Linked DNA regions of Homo sapiens. The protein of the gene in region 3 interacts with the protein of the main gene of each other region in a biochemical or structural test. Each region holds a gene or a part of one and is shown on either strand. Other genes may lie near its edges. The genes, in order: AKT2, PRKCB and BLVRA.

The links.
Region 1: the proteins of BLVRA (region 3) and AKT2 form a complex in vitro, tested with the Homo sapiens proteins (one study listed by BioGRID).
Region 2: the proteins of BLVRA (region 3) and PRKCB form a complex in vitro, tested with the Homo sapiens proteins (one study listed by BioGRID).

What each region holds. Positions count from the first base shown.
Region 1 is NC_000019.10:40,283,657-40,287,402, reverse strand, and holds the start of AKT2 (RAC-beta serine/threonine-protein kinase), read left to right. Parts: upstream 1-2,057; 5' UTR 2,058-2,222; intron 2,223-3,746. UniProt on the Homo sapiens protein: Serine/threonine kinase closely related to AKT1 and AKT3. All 3 enzymes, AKT1, AKT2 and AKT3, are collectively known as AKT kinase.
Region 2 is NC_000016.10:23,833,673-23,837,418, reverse strand, and holds the start of PRKCB (protein kinase C beta type), read right to left. Parts: upstream 1,437-3,746; 5' UTR 1,244-1,436; coding exon 1,071-1,243; intron 45-1,070; coding exon 13-44; intron 1-12. UniProt on the Homo sapiens protein: Calcium-activated, phospholipid- and diacylglycerol (DAG)-dependent serine/threonine-protein kinase involved in various cellular processes such as regulation of the B-cell receptor (BCR) signalosome, oxidative stress-induced apoptosis, androgen receptor-dependent transcription regulation, insulin signaling and endothelial cells proliferation.
Region 3 is NC_000007.14:43,761,569-43,765,314, forward strand, and holds part of BLVRA (biliverdin reductase A), read left to right. Parts: intron 1-1,062; exon of another isoform or gene 1,063-1,206; intron 1,207-2,636; exon of another isoform or gene 2,637-2,737; intron 2,738-3,746. UniProt on the Homo sapiens protein: Reduces the gamma-methene bridge of the open tetrapyrrole, biliverdin IXalpha, to bilirubin with the concomitant oxidation of a NADH or NADPH cofactor. Does not reduce bilirubin IXbeta.

The DNA.
Region 1 (3,746 bases), on a different chromosome or scaffold from region 3:
AAAAATTAGCTGGGCGTGTTGGCGCGTGCCTGTAATCCCAGCTACTCAGGAGGCCGAGGCAGGAGAATCGCTTGAACCTGGGAGGCAGAGGGCAGAGGTTGCAGTGAGCCAAGATCTCGCCACTGCACTCCAGCCTGGCGATGCAGTGAGTCTCAAAAAAAAAAAAAAAAAAAAAGAGAAAGCCACTGCCCTTGACTACCAGTGCTGCAAGGAGTTTATACACAAGCACATGGGTGGTTTCAGTGAGATCTCAGTGTGTCATAATTAAGTGCCCTAGGAGGGGCTAGGATTCAAGTTGGCCCAGGGGAGACTTAGACGTAGGGGAATGGCCTGTGAGCTGTTCAGTGTGGACAGGAGTGAAGAGGGTTGGTCACAGTAACCTTGAGTCTAGATTAGGGCAGAAGGGCTAATGCTTGAAACAAACATTCTGCAAGAGCCCACTCTGGGCAATGTTGGATACACACTGATCTCTGAGACAGTCTTGGTCTCTTCCTTTACTGTGTTTCCTGTGCAGTGGGGGAAACAGACCTGTCACCAGACAGTAATAGATGAAAATGGTTAGGGCTGTGAAGGGGGAGGCATTGGTCAGAGTTATTAACACCGACTGATGGGGAAGACCGGGAATTAGGAATACCAAGCAGCAAGTTCCAAGCTAGAAACCAAATAAGAAAGGGCTAGTTCCAGCATTAGGTTTACGTCTCAGAAAACGAAAGCCGAACCCTCAGCAGGATTTGCCTGAAACACTCTCACAGACTGAGGTGGACCCAGGATTCAACTCTCAGTCAGGCATTTTTCTCACTTACCAATGCATACAATTGCCAAGTTATATGGCATACTGGAACCCAAATTCAGGAGGCAGCACAATCCCCTATGAGAGAGGAGGGGCTGGGAGCCAGATGTCTCACAGCTGTCCAGTATACTAGCTAATATACGGATTAGGATCTGTGCAAAGCTCTTTTCTTGCAGGGTCATTTTTTTTCTTTTTTCTTTCTTTTCTTTTTTTTTTTTTTTTTTGAGACGGAGACTTGCACTGTCGCCCGGGCCGGAGTGCAATGGCATGATCTCGGCTCACTGAAACCTCTGCCTCCCGGGTTCACGCGATTCTCCTGCCTCAAGCCTCCCAAGTAGTTGGGATTACAGGCACACACCGACATGCCCGGCTTTTTTTTTTTTTTTTGTATTTTGAGTAGAGACGGGGTTTCACTATGTTGGCCAGGCTGTCTCGAACTCCTGACCTCATGATCCGTCTGCCTTGGCCTCCCCAAGTGCTAGGATTACAGGAGTGAGCCACCGCGCCCGGCCGCAGGGTGATTTTAAGGCCTTTATGGGCCCAAGTTGCATTATAAAATGTTATATCCCAGATTCACTGGAATATGTACGATGAGAGCAGGTGGCATTAATATCTTGCAGTAATGAACTAATTGGTAAAAACCGTTTTGTTTACATTAAAATGGTTCAAAAGCCAGCGACACAGCGATGATTGTTTCCATTTAGCAGATGTGGATACTGAGGCACAGAAAACGGTCAAGCCTTCTGCCCACAGTCACCAGAAAGGAGGAAATTCAAGTCTGGGGTTGTGTGGCTTCAGAGCCTGAGCTCAACCATGACGAGCACACTGAAAAGGAAACCCCTCCTAACTAACTCCCGCTCCGGGGTCCTTTAAGAGCGTCAGAACCCAGAACTGAGTAAAACAAGATCAAAGCGTATGTAAATACGGACTAGGGGCTGCCGGGAAATAATCACTACGGCTAGGCCCTAGGGAAAGCAGACGTCGGAGTCCTAGTGCGCCTGCGTAGCCCCATCTCGCCTTTCCGCCCCACGGCCTAGCGAGGCCCATCTCTAACCCACACAGGCCCAAAGTTGTCTAATGTGCGCAGGCGCCCTGCTGTGAGCCCGCCTCCTTCTCTGCCCTGCTCTTGCGCTCTCGCTCTCTCAGAGTTCGTCTCTGGCTCTTTGTACGTCACTTCCTGTTTGTGGCGCGAGAGGGCGGTATTTCCGTCCAGAGGGTGGGAGGGGGCGGTAAGCGGGGGCTGGGGGGAGGGGGCGGGGGGGGCCGCGCCGTGCTAGCCGTTGGGCCTGCCTCGGAGGAGGCGTCGCCGCCGCCGCTGCCGCTGCCGGCGCCGTTGCCGCTGCCGGGAAACACAAGGAAAGGGAACCAGCGCAGCGTGGCGATGGGCGGGGGTAGAGCCCCGCCGGAGAGGCTGGGCGGCTGCCGGTGACAGGTGAGTGCGCCAGCGCGTGTCCCCGAACGCCCCCCCCACGATGGTCGCGTCCGGGCCCCCCGCGGTGCCGCGATGGGCTGTACCACCCGTGCCCGGCGGGGGGACCGCGGCCCTCGAGCCCCTCCTTCAGGAGCTGAGTGGGGGTGGCCGAGCGGGGGCGGTGGGACCAGCCTCGGGGGGCCGGGGCGGTGGCGGCGGGCCATACCACTGAGGCGGTGGGGGGAGCGCTGCAAGTTTGCGGGACGGGGAGCGCAGGCCGCAGCGTGCGCGGGCCGGGGGCTGGACCTTTCGGGCGCGGCGGGCAGATCGAGCCTGGCGTGCGCGGGCTAAGCTATCGAGGGGGCGCGCCGCATCAAGTGTAGAGGGCTGTACCTTTTTGGCGCTGTGGAAGCCGTTGCTGTGCTGTATTTACAGGGGTGGGGGCTTCTGGGGAGGATGCTTCCCCAACTGTGGCTGGGTTATATCACCACGGCGTTGGGGGAGCCCTGCTTAGAACGTAGGGGAACCCAAATCAGAGGACTGTGATGTTTGTGATCTTTAAGGGACTGGGACGGGGCGGGACAGGCCCTAGTGGGTTTTAGGGGCGTATTTTGGGAGGACTGTGATGCCGATTGGTGAGGAGGGGTTTCTGTTTCCTGTATTTGACGTGTGTGGCGTTGGGGGTTTACACTGATCTCAGCCTTTATTGAACTTCTTAACGACTCTGGAGGGAACGTCATGGTTACTGGGGTGCTTTGGACCATGGAGGTGCTGCTCTGGATTCCATTACCCTCTCAGATTATTTACCAGGCAGTAACAGTTCTTTCCTTCCATAGGGGAGGGAGGAAAGCTGTGTTAGAAGTCACTGAAGTTGTCTGAGCCTTAACATTCTGAAGAGGAAGAGGGATTGGGCTTGGATTTGAGGAGCCGTGCCCCTGCACCCGCTTGTTAAAACTTGGGAGGAAGGAGTGTTTGGGGGAACACCTCTTCCCCCCAGGGAAGCTCTCTGGGGGCATCTTGATCTTGGGATTGTGAGGACCTCTTCCTCTCATTTGGAGACCTCTTGGGGCTCAGCAAGACGCCTGGGCTGGAGTAACTAGAGCCTCCAATGGGCTGCTTTTCAACTTCATCCACTCCTACCTTCCCAGAGAAGCAGCAGGAGTTCACTCGTGGGCTGAACTTGGTTGGCAGTGGATGTGAAGGGTCCAGGAACCAACGCAGACCACTACATGCTCCTCTGTCGCTGGCCACGAAGCTGTTTGTGTCTCCCAGTTACCAGCTCGGTCACACATCATGTTTACACTCCCCACCAAGGCAGTAACAGTTGGCCTTGCAGTGAGGCCGGGAGCTGTTTTCCCAGCTGTTCCTCTTTGCATAGGCCAAGGGGACTTGGAGTGGGGGTGCCCCTGGCCCAGCCTGGCCCAGGGAGGAAGGCTGCTCTGAAGGGCTTGGGACAGTCAGATCCCCCATGGATCTGGTGTCTTATTGTGGTCTGTGGGCTGGTGCTGGGAGCAGCCAGCCCCAGAGGTCTGTGGCCAGTGTCCC
Region 2 (3,746 bases), on a different chromosome or scaffold from region 3:
CCCAGAGCCTACCTTGGCACTGGAATCCCTGCTTCCCGAAGCCCCTGCAAAAGCAGAAGGAGGTGTATGTCAGGCAGCCCGGGGGGCCCAGCCTCCAGCTAGTTACCCACAGAGTCACCCGCCTTCCTCCCTGCCTCTGTACCCCAGGTGCAAACTCCCAGCCACAGGCGGGTGCCCAAGAGTCTTCCGCCTTTGTGGGGGTAGGTGGGAGCTCGGCTGTAACCCCCATCTGCCTTCACTCCTGCAGAAGAGAGGAGGCTGCGACCACCAGGTGGCGGGATAGTGGGGAGCGTTTCCGTCGGGGTAGGGGCTGAAGGCAGGCGACAGATGTACCCATAGATGCCCCGAGCACCCTCGGGAAAAGAGAAGAGATAAAGACGCATTCAGAGGGAGGGCGAGAGTGACCCCGCGGCGGTGGTGTCCTCTGGGAGGGGGACTGGGAAGGAGGAAAGGATGCCCCACTACTGGAGGGACTGGGGAAGAAAGGGGCCCGCAGTGATGTGACCGAGGAGTGGAAAGGGGAACCCAGGCCCTCGGGGAGGGGCAATGGGAGATAACACAGGGCGCTGCCCGGAGGCACAGAGGAGTGAGAAAGGATGTCCCATGCCCGCAGGGAGATAGAGAAGGACACCCAGGGCGCCGCCCCCCCCGGAAACAAGGGGTGGGGGGCGAGGGCTCCTCGCGCCCGGAAGCAGGCGGAGAGATAGGGAACCCCGGGTCGGAGAGCACCCGAGGCGCTGCCCTCCAGGGCAGGCACAGACCCCGCGCGCTCCTAGTCAGGTGGAGCAAAGGCTCCCGCGACGCCGCCCCTGGGCGCTCTAGAGGCGCCTGAGAGCAGGAGAGGGCAGGAGGCGCCCCGCGGCGGCCCGTCTGGGACCAGGGTGGGGACAGGGCAACGGCAGGACTGTCCATCCGGGAGTCCCGGGCAGCAGGGTCCGGAGCCGGGAGTCCGGAGACGCGGGGTCCCAGGGTGCGGAGGGCGCGGAGGGCGCAGAGGGCGCGGAGAGGGGGTCCCTGGCGCGGCGCTGCCCTCGGGGGCCCGGGAAGGTGCCCTGCGCGCGCGCGCTCACCAGATGAAGTCGGTGCAGTGGCTGCAGAAGGTGGGCTGCTTGAAGAAGCGGGCGGTGAATTTGTGGTTCTTGACCTCATGCACGTTCTTCTGCCGGAGGGCGCCTTTGCGGGCGAAGCGCACGGTGCTCTCCTCGCCCTCGCTCGGCGGCGGCCCCGCAGCCGGGTCAGCCATCTTGCGCGCGGGGAGCCGGAGCCCGAGAGGTGCCGGCCCCGGGGCCGCGGGACCGCGGGCTGCGGGCCGGGGAGGCGCGGGAGGCGGCGGCCGCTGCTGCACCCGGGGCCGCGGGCGCTTCCCCTGCGCCGGCTCTGGCGGCCGCGGCGCGCGGAGCCGGGGCTGTCACTCGCCCAGCTGCTGCCGCTCGTCCAGCTGCGCTTGGCACCGCTGGCCCCAGCTGCGGGGGAGGGAGGCGGAGCCCCGGGCCAGCCCCGCCCTCCTCATTTGCATCGCGCCCAGGCCCCGCCCAGCGCTGCCAGCTGCTTTACATATCGGCGCCCGGGCTACCGCGGGCCTCGCGGCTAAGCGTGCACAGCCGCAGCTCTGCAGCGCCGGGACCGCAGCCCGGGGTCGTCGGACCCGAGCCTCGCCCCCCACCCCACCCCGTCCTCGGCCCCCGGGGCTGCGTTCAGGAGATGTGCCCAGGGGAGGAGCGAGAGTGGAAAGACCTACGGGGCGAAGGGGAGCGGGTGGAAGGGGTGGGGCGCAGCGAATTCCACCCCGGCCTCTGCGGAGACTGGTACCCATCCACCCCCATCCATCCCATTGGTCATTCTGCACGCGTCTCCTGGAGGGATGGGCTCCCGCTGTCACTCATTCGGAAAGGCTTGTGGCCGCACACACTTACACACACATACACACACACGTTCTGCAGAGGTAGGGGAGGAGCGATCTTTATTTTATATGTCTCTAACTCCACCACAGAGAAGATTCTTGGCTTTGCTTGCCTCCTGCACGTTTGGAAGAGAACTCCCTACCTTCTGTCCATCCCCTCTGCAAAACGACTCCGTTTCCCCAACTGTAACATAGGGCTAATAGTGTGGGGAGGAAGGATTTCAGTAGATCAATATTTTTCCAAATTTCATTCATTTCTGACTCGTCTTCACAAATTCTGGTCGTATTTGTGCACCCTCTGGGGGAAAAAAAGCCTATCTCTTTTGGTCTGAGTTTGAACAGCAAGAGGTATCTACATTATTAAAATATCTCCAGGTGCCGTCATCTGTCCTAAGCATCTTCGACTGAAGTCATCTTTTATTTGTTAAGAGAGGAAATTAATAAATGCTAGAGGGGTGTTAAAGACATTACTATCCAACCAGGACTCTCTCCTTGATGTGATCTGAAGGTAACTGAAAGGGTAATAATTGTCTACAATGTGTAATTCAATGTTATTTAGCGCCCTGTTCATGCACAAGGCCTAAAGATACCCACTGCCACCATGTCCCCCACTCTGGGAACGCAGAGCTTCATTAGGCTGTGAGCTCCTTCACCAGACCTAGGCTCTGTGAGAGCAGGGGGGCTGTTCACCACCATGTCGCCCAGCACCAAGCTCAGTGCCTGACACCTCCCAAGACCCCAGTAAATATTGGTTGATTGAGTGAGGGCATGGATGAACAAGTGAATGAATGAAGACTTAAAGGTCGGCACTTCTTACCCCCACTCACACCCAGTAGGTGTTTAATAATAAATATCAAGTGATTGCTGGGCATCAGGTACTTGTGCTGTCTTATTTAGCCCCCGCAACAACCCTATGTAGATCTGGTAACTTTCATTATGGATAAGGATGGGGAGGTTCAGAGTGATTAAGATACACCCACAGTCATACCGTTGCTGAATGGTGATTGGGCTGGCCTGACTACAAAGCATCCTGGTGACAAAGGGGTGAACCTGAGTAGTGGTGGATGAAGGGGGGCAGGCTGGAGTTGCACGAGCTCAGGTCCCACTATGACAATTTTGCCTGGAAGCTGCTGAGTGGTAAGTCATTATTAGGTAGCATGTCGAGAGCAAGGGCTGCAATAATAGAATGTCCCTCTCCTACATAGTAATTCAAAGGTAAGGAGGAAAAAATAGCATTCACTTTTAAGGTTGACATGTTTGGGAAACTGGATGTGCCTGTCTATTATTAGTCCTTGAAGAGGCCCCACCACCTCCCAGGGAGGCTTGGGAAAACATCCCAGGAGACATTGCTGCTGAAGTAGATTTCCTTTGAACTGATGAGCTGGAAGCTCACAGCCCACATCCTGCCTTTTGAATGAAGTGCCCTGGATGACTTTGGTCTGTAACAACAAACAGTACCTCATGGCGCCGGGGCCTGGGGATGCAAGGGCTGTGGATGGAAAAGAGCCACTTGGTTCCTGAAGGCGTTGCACCAAGTGAGGATGAGAAATGTGGTTCCCATTGGACCCAGATTCCTGTAGGTCAGGGTCTCAAACTGGTGGCTCCAGATGCTCTATTTTTTTTAAGCTAGCCCAGTGGGTTGTTGTTGTTGTTGTTGTTTTTTAAGTTCACGGGTCATAGAATTTTACTTAAATATCCAGATTCTGACTTATCTAGGAAAAAAGATAGAGCTAAATGGAGCCTACATTCCTCCCTCACTCATACATTTGTTCTTTCAATCAACAAATTGCTTATTAAGCACCTACTGTGTGCTGTTCCAGATACTGTTAAACAAACCAGACAAAGG
Region 3 (3,746 bases):
ATTCATTCATTCATTGATCCCCCAAATGTTAATGGCCTTGAAGGAAGCAGAGCCTTTCCTGATTCTCAGTTATAGGGAAAATTTTCTGTGGACTTCATTATCAGAGCACCTTGATATGTTATTGCCCTGTGAAAGTCTGTTCAGTTTGGGGCTAGGAGGGATGCAGTCAGTGAAAGTGGCATAGTTTGTAATGTTTTTTAGAGTTTTGAATAATTATGTTAACTAATCTTTATAGAAAAGTTTAAAGTGTACAGAGAAGCAAAAAGAAAGTAGTCACTAAAAGTTTCACCACTTAGAGACATAATTACTGGTAATATTTTGATGTATATATTTCCAGACTTGTGTCCCATGTAGCTATTATATTTTTCTCAATAGATCCCAAAGTATCCAACTCCCTCCAGGGCAAGAGTTGCTTTTACCTTTACCCTTAGACCTCTGAGGCTGGCAGCTGGCCCCACCTGAGAGGGTCACCCTCTCCCTAATCCTTCCCCATACTTCTGTGAGTCACCTGGCTTTGGGGCAATAATAGATACTTGAGAGGGCGTTTGAGGAGGAACAAGGAGGAAGGTCACAGCTGTAGTTCATTCTGCATGATGTGTAATCCAGGCTTTTTCAACTCTGGCACTGTTGACATTTTGGGCTGGATAATTCTTTGTGTATGTGTAGTTGGGGTAGGAAGGTGTCCTGTGCATCACAGGATGTTTTGCAGCATCCCTGGCCTTTCCCTACTAGATGCCAATGGCACATACCCTTTTCCCCCCGAGTACAACAATCAGAAATGTTGGTGAGAAATACTGGGTTAATGAAAATCACTAATTTATTGCTGACAAAGCTCTGGAGTTTCAGATTCCAATTTGCATGTGGGAAAGAGACTGAAATCAAAAGGGAAACATAATGTAAGCCAAGGAAGCTGTTTAGTCCTGGCTGTGCTATTAATTTACTGTGAGATTTTGCATCTCTCCCACGTGCAAATTGGAATGTGAAACTCTAGAGCTTTGTCAGCAATAATTTAGTGATTTCCATGAACCCAGTAGTTCCTTTTTTTTTTTTTTTTTTTTTTTAAGATGGAGTCTTGCTCTGTCACCCAGGCTGGAGTGCAGTGGGACGGTCTCGGCTCATTGCAACCTCCGCCTCCCAGGTTCGAGCAATTCTCCTGCCTCAGCCTCCCGAGTAGCTGGGACTACAGGTGCACGCCACCATACCCAGGTAATTTTTGTATTTTTAGTAGACATGGGGTTTCACCATGTTGGCCAGGATGGTCTCGATCTCTTGACCTCATGATCAGCCCCATGCCCGCCTCGGCCTCCCAAAGTGCTGGGATTACAGGCATGAGCCACCGTGCCCGGCCCTTAACCCAGTAGTTGTTACTGACATTTCTGATTGTCGTGCTGGGGGGAAAACGGTATGTGCCACTGGCATCTAGTGGGGAAAGGCCAGGGATGCTGCAAACTGATATACTGCCAAGTTTATCAGTTGGGAATCCCAACAGTGAAAAGCATAAAAATGAAAGGAATTTTAAGGAGACTTTTTATAGAAGAGTGGGCAGGATTGGAGGAGCCAACAAGTGATGGTGAGGCACACAGGGAAGAGCTTCAGTGGGCACCATCCCCTCTCTGGTTTGAAGGGGTAGGGAGGGGACCAGAGCTGGGAGGAGGGGGCTGGAATACTGCTGGAGGAGCCACTCCCTTCCAGACCTGCTGTGGCCATCACAGAATGCAGCCACTGCCAGAGCAGCAGCCTGAGGAACCAGGCAGGGGGAGCACAAGTACCCTAGCCTCTCTCTTTCTGTTTCTTGCCTGCCGATCTCCTCCACTGGCTAAACCCAGCTGGATGCTAAGAGTACAGTCAGCCTGCCTGCTGAGGAGGGACCACCAGGGACCACCATCAGCAAGGGATCCAATGTCTTTCTGCCTCTGCAGAATGAAGGTTGGGGCACGGGGGGCGCTCTACTTCTTAGGGATATTGTGGGAATAAAAGGAAATAGGCAAAAAATGTTTTTGAAAAACAAAGCACATACTGCGCACCCGTGGGCCACTACTGCTTTTGACCCCTGGCTCTGTTTCATGAAGTAATGTCGTGTCATTCTCTTTTTAGGTGCTACAGGATTTCTTTAGGTTTGTTTTCTGTCCACCATATTTCAACTCATGTGTGCTGTTTGTTGTGCTAAAACAAATATTTGCTGATGCCTGAGTGAATAGTTGAATATTTTATATAAGTCAAATTTATACGTAATGATTTTTCTTGTAACTTAGCCGTTTCTCTTTTACAAACTCAGAAAACCTCAGACTTTGAAAAGGCCTTGAAGTTCCTCACCTGAAATCTGAGAACTTGGAGCGCCTTAAAAAATCTAAAGGAAAACAAAACAGTGAAAGAACATGATATAGTCAGTGTAGAGAATAAAATTATTTATGTAATTAATATTGAGGATGCAGATAACACGTTGTGAAATCTTGCTTGTAAAAAATCTCGATCTGCTGAAGAAAGATGTTCTCTCTAGAGATCTTTGAAAGCATAATTATTGAGCTTTTAAAATGTTAGAAACAAAAGTTAGACCCACACATATTCTGGCGTGTGGAAGATTTGCATTCCTTCCCCTGCCCGCCCCGCCCCCGCACTTGTGAGTTGTGCCTGTGTACGCAGTTCCTGTAGCACTCGGCTGGGCAGAAATCATCTTTCAGCACTAAGGGAACATAGTTATGATCTGGACCTTCTGGGAGTGGTCAGTGCCCAAGAACAGGTATGGGACTCCAGAAAGTTCTGCTCTCAACCCTATTTTGAAATAGAGTTACACATTGTTCTACAATTATTTGAGTTAATAAGCAGCTCTTTTCAAACGTGATTATGCCCTTCCAAGTTTAAATACACTAGACTTTAGTGAAAGTAATTGACCTCATCTCATTTCTCTCCTGTTATATTAAGATCACTTTCAGTAAAAGGTAGAAGCTTTTGAAGTGGTGAGGAGGAGGTAGAGGAGGGACATAGAGCAGATAGGGGCTGGAAAGTGGGGTGGGGAAGAGAGTGGCTTCTCTTTGGCAGAGTACCAAGGAAAAGCCCTATCTGTACAGAACCTTTGTGCCTGGGAACTTGATGGCTGCAACCTGAGCCTCAACCTAGTTTGCTTGCGGAGCCAGAAGAGAAGCTAAAAACCTTCAGTTAACCAAGCCAGACACCAAGAAAGTTAAACCGAAAGAGAACCCCCCACCCCCCGCAAAAAAAAGAAGTAAAGTGGGTTAAAGTGATATGTTAGCACAGAAAGAGAACATAAGGGTCATCTAAGTTCATCTGCCCCCTCTTCTATTTCAAGGTGCAGAAACTAAGGCACAAGGGACCCCGTGTCCTGCTCTTGATCACATAGCTAGTGGGTGCCAAGCCAGGTCTAGAACTCTGTTCTCTGGGGTCACAGGCTGGCTCTTCATCCCTCTAGAGAGATAGCTCATCTGTGTGCACCTGAGCCCGTTGTGTTTCGGAGTCAAAGCAAATAAAGGCTCAAACTCCAAGACTGTTTTGCAGACCGGCTGCAGTAGATACGGGGGGAGGAGAAACCTGCTTTAAATTGCTTCAAGCAAGTTGTTTCTGCAAAGGTGTTGACTTTTTTCTTTCAACTTTCTAGTGAGTCACTGCAGCCTGAGCTGTTATTTGTCATTATGCAATAATTCAGGAACTAACTCAAGATTCTTCTTTTTAAATTATTTGTTTATTTAGAGACAGAGTCTTGCTCTGTTGCCCAAGCTGGAGTGCAGTGGTGT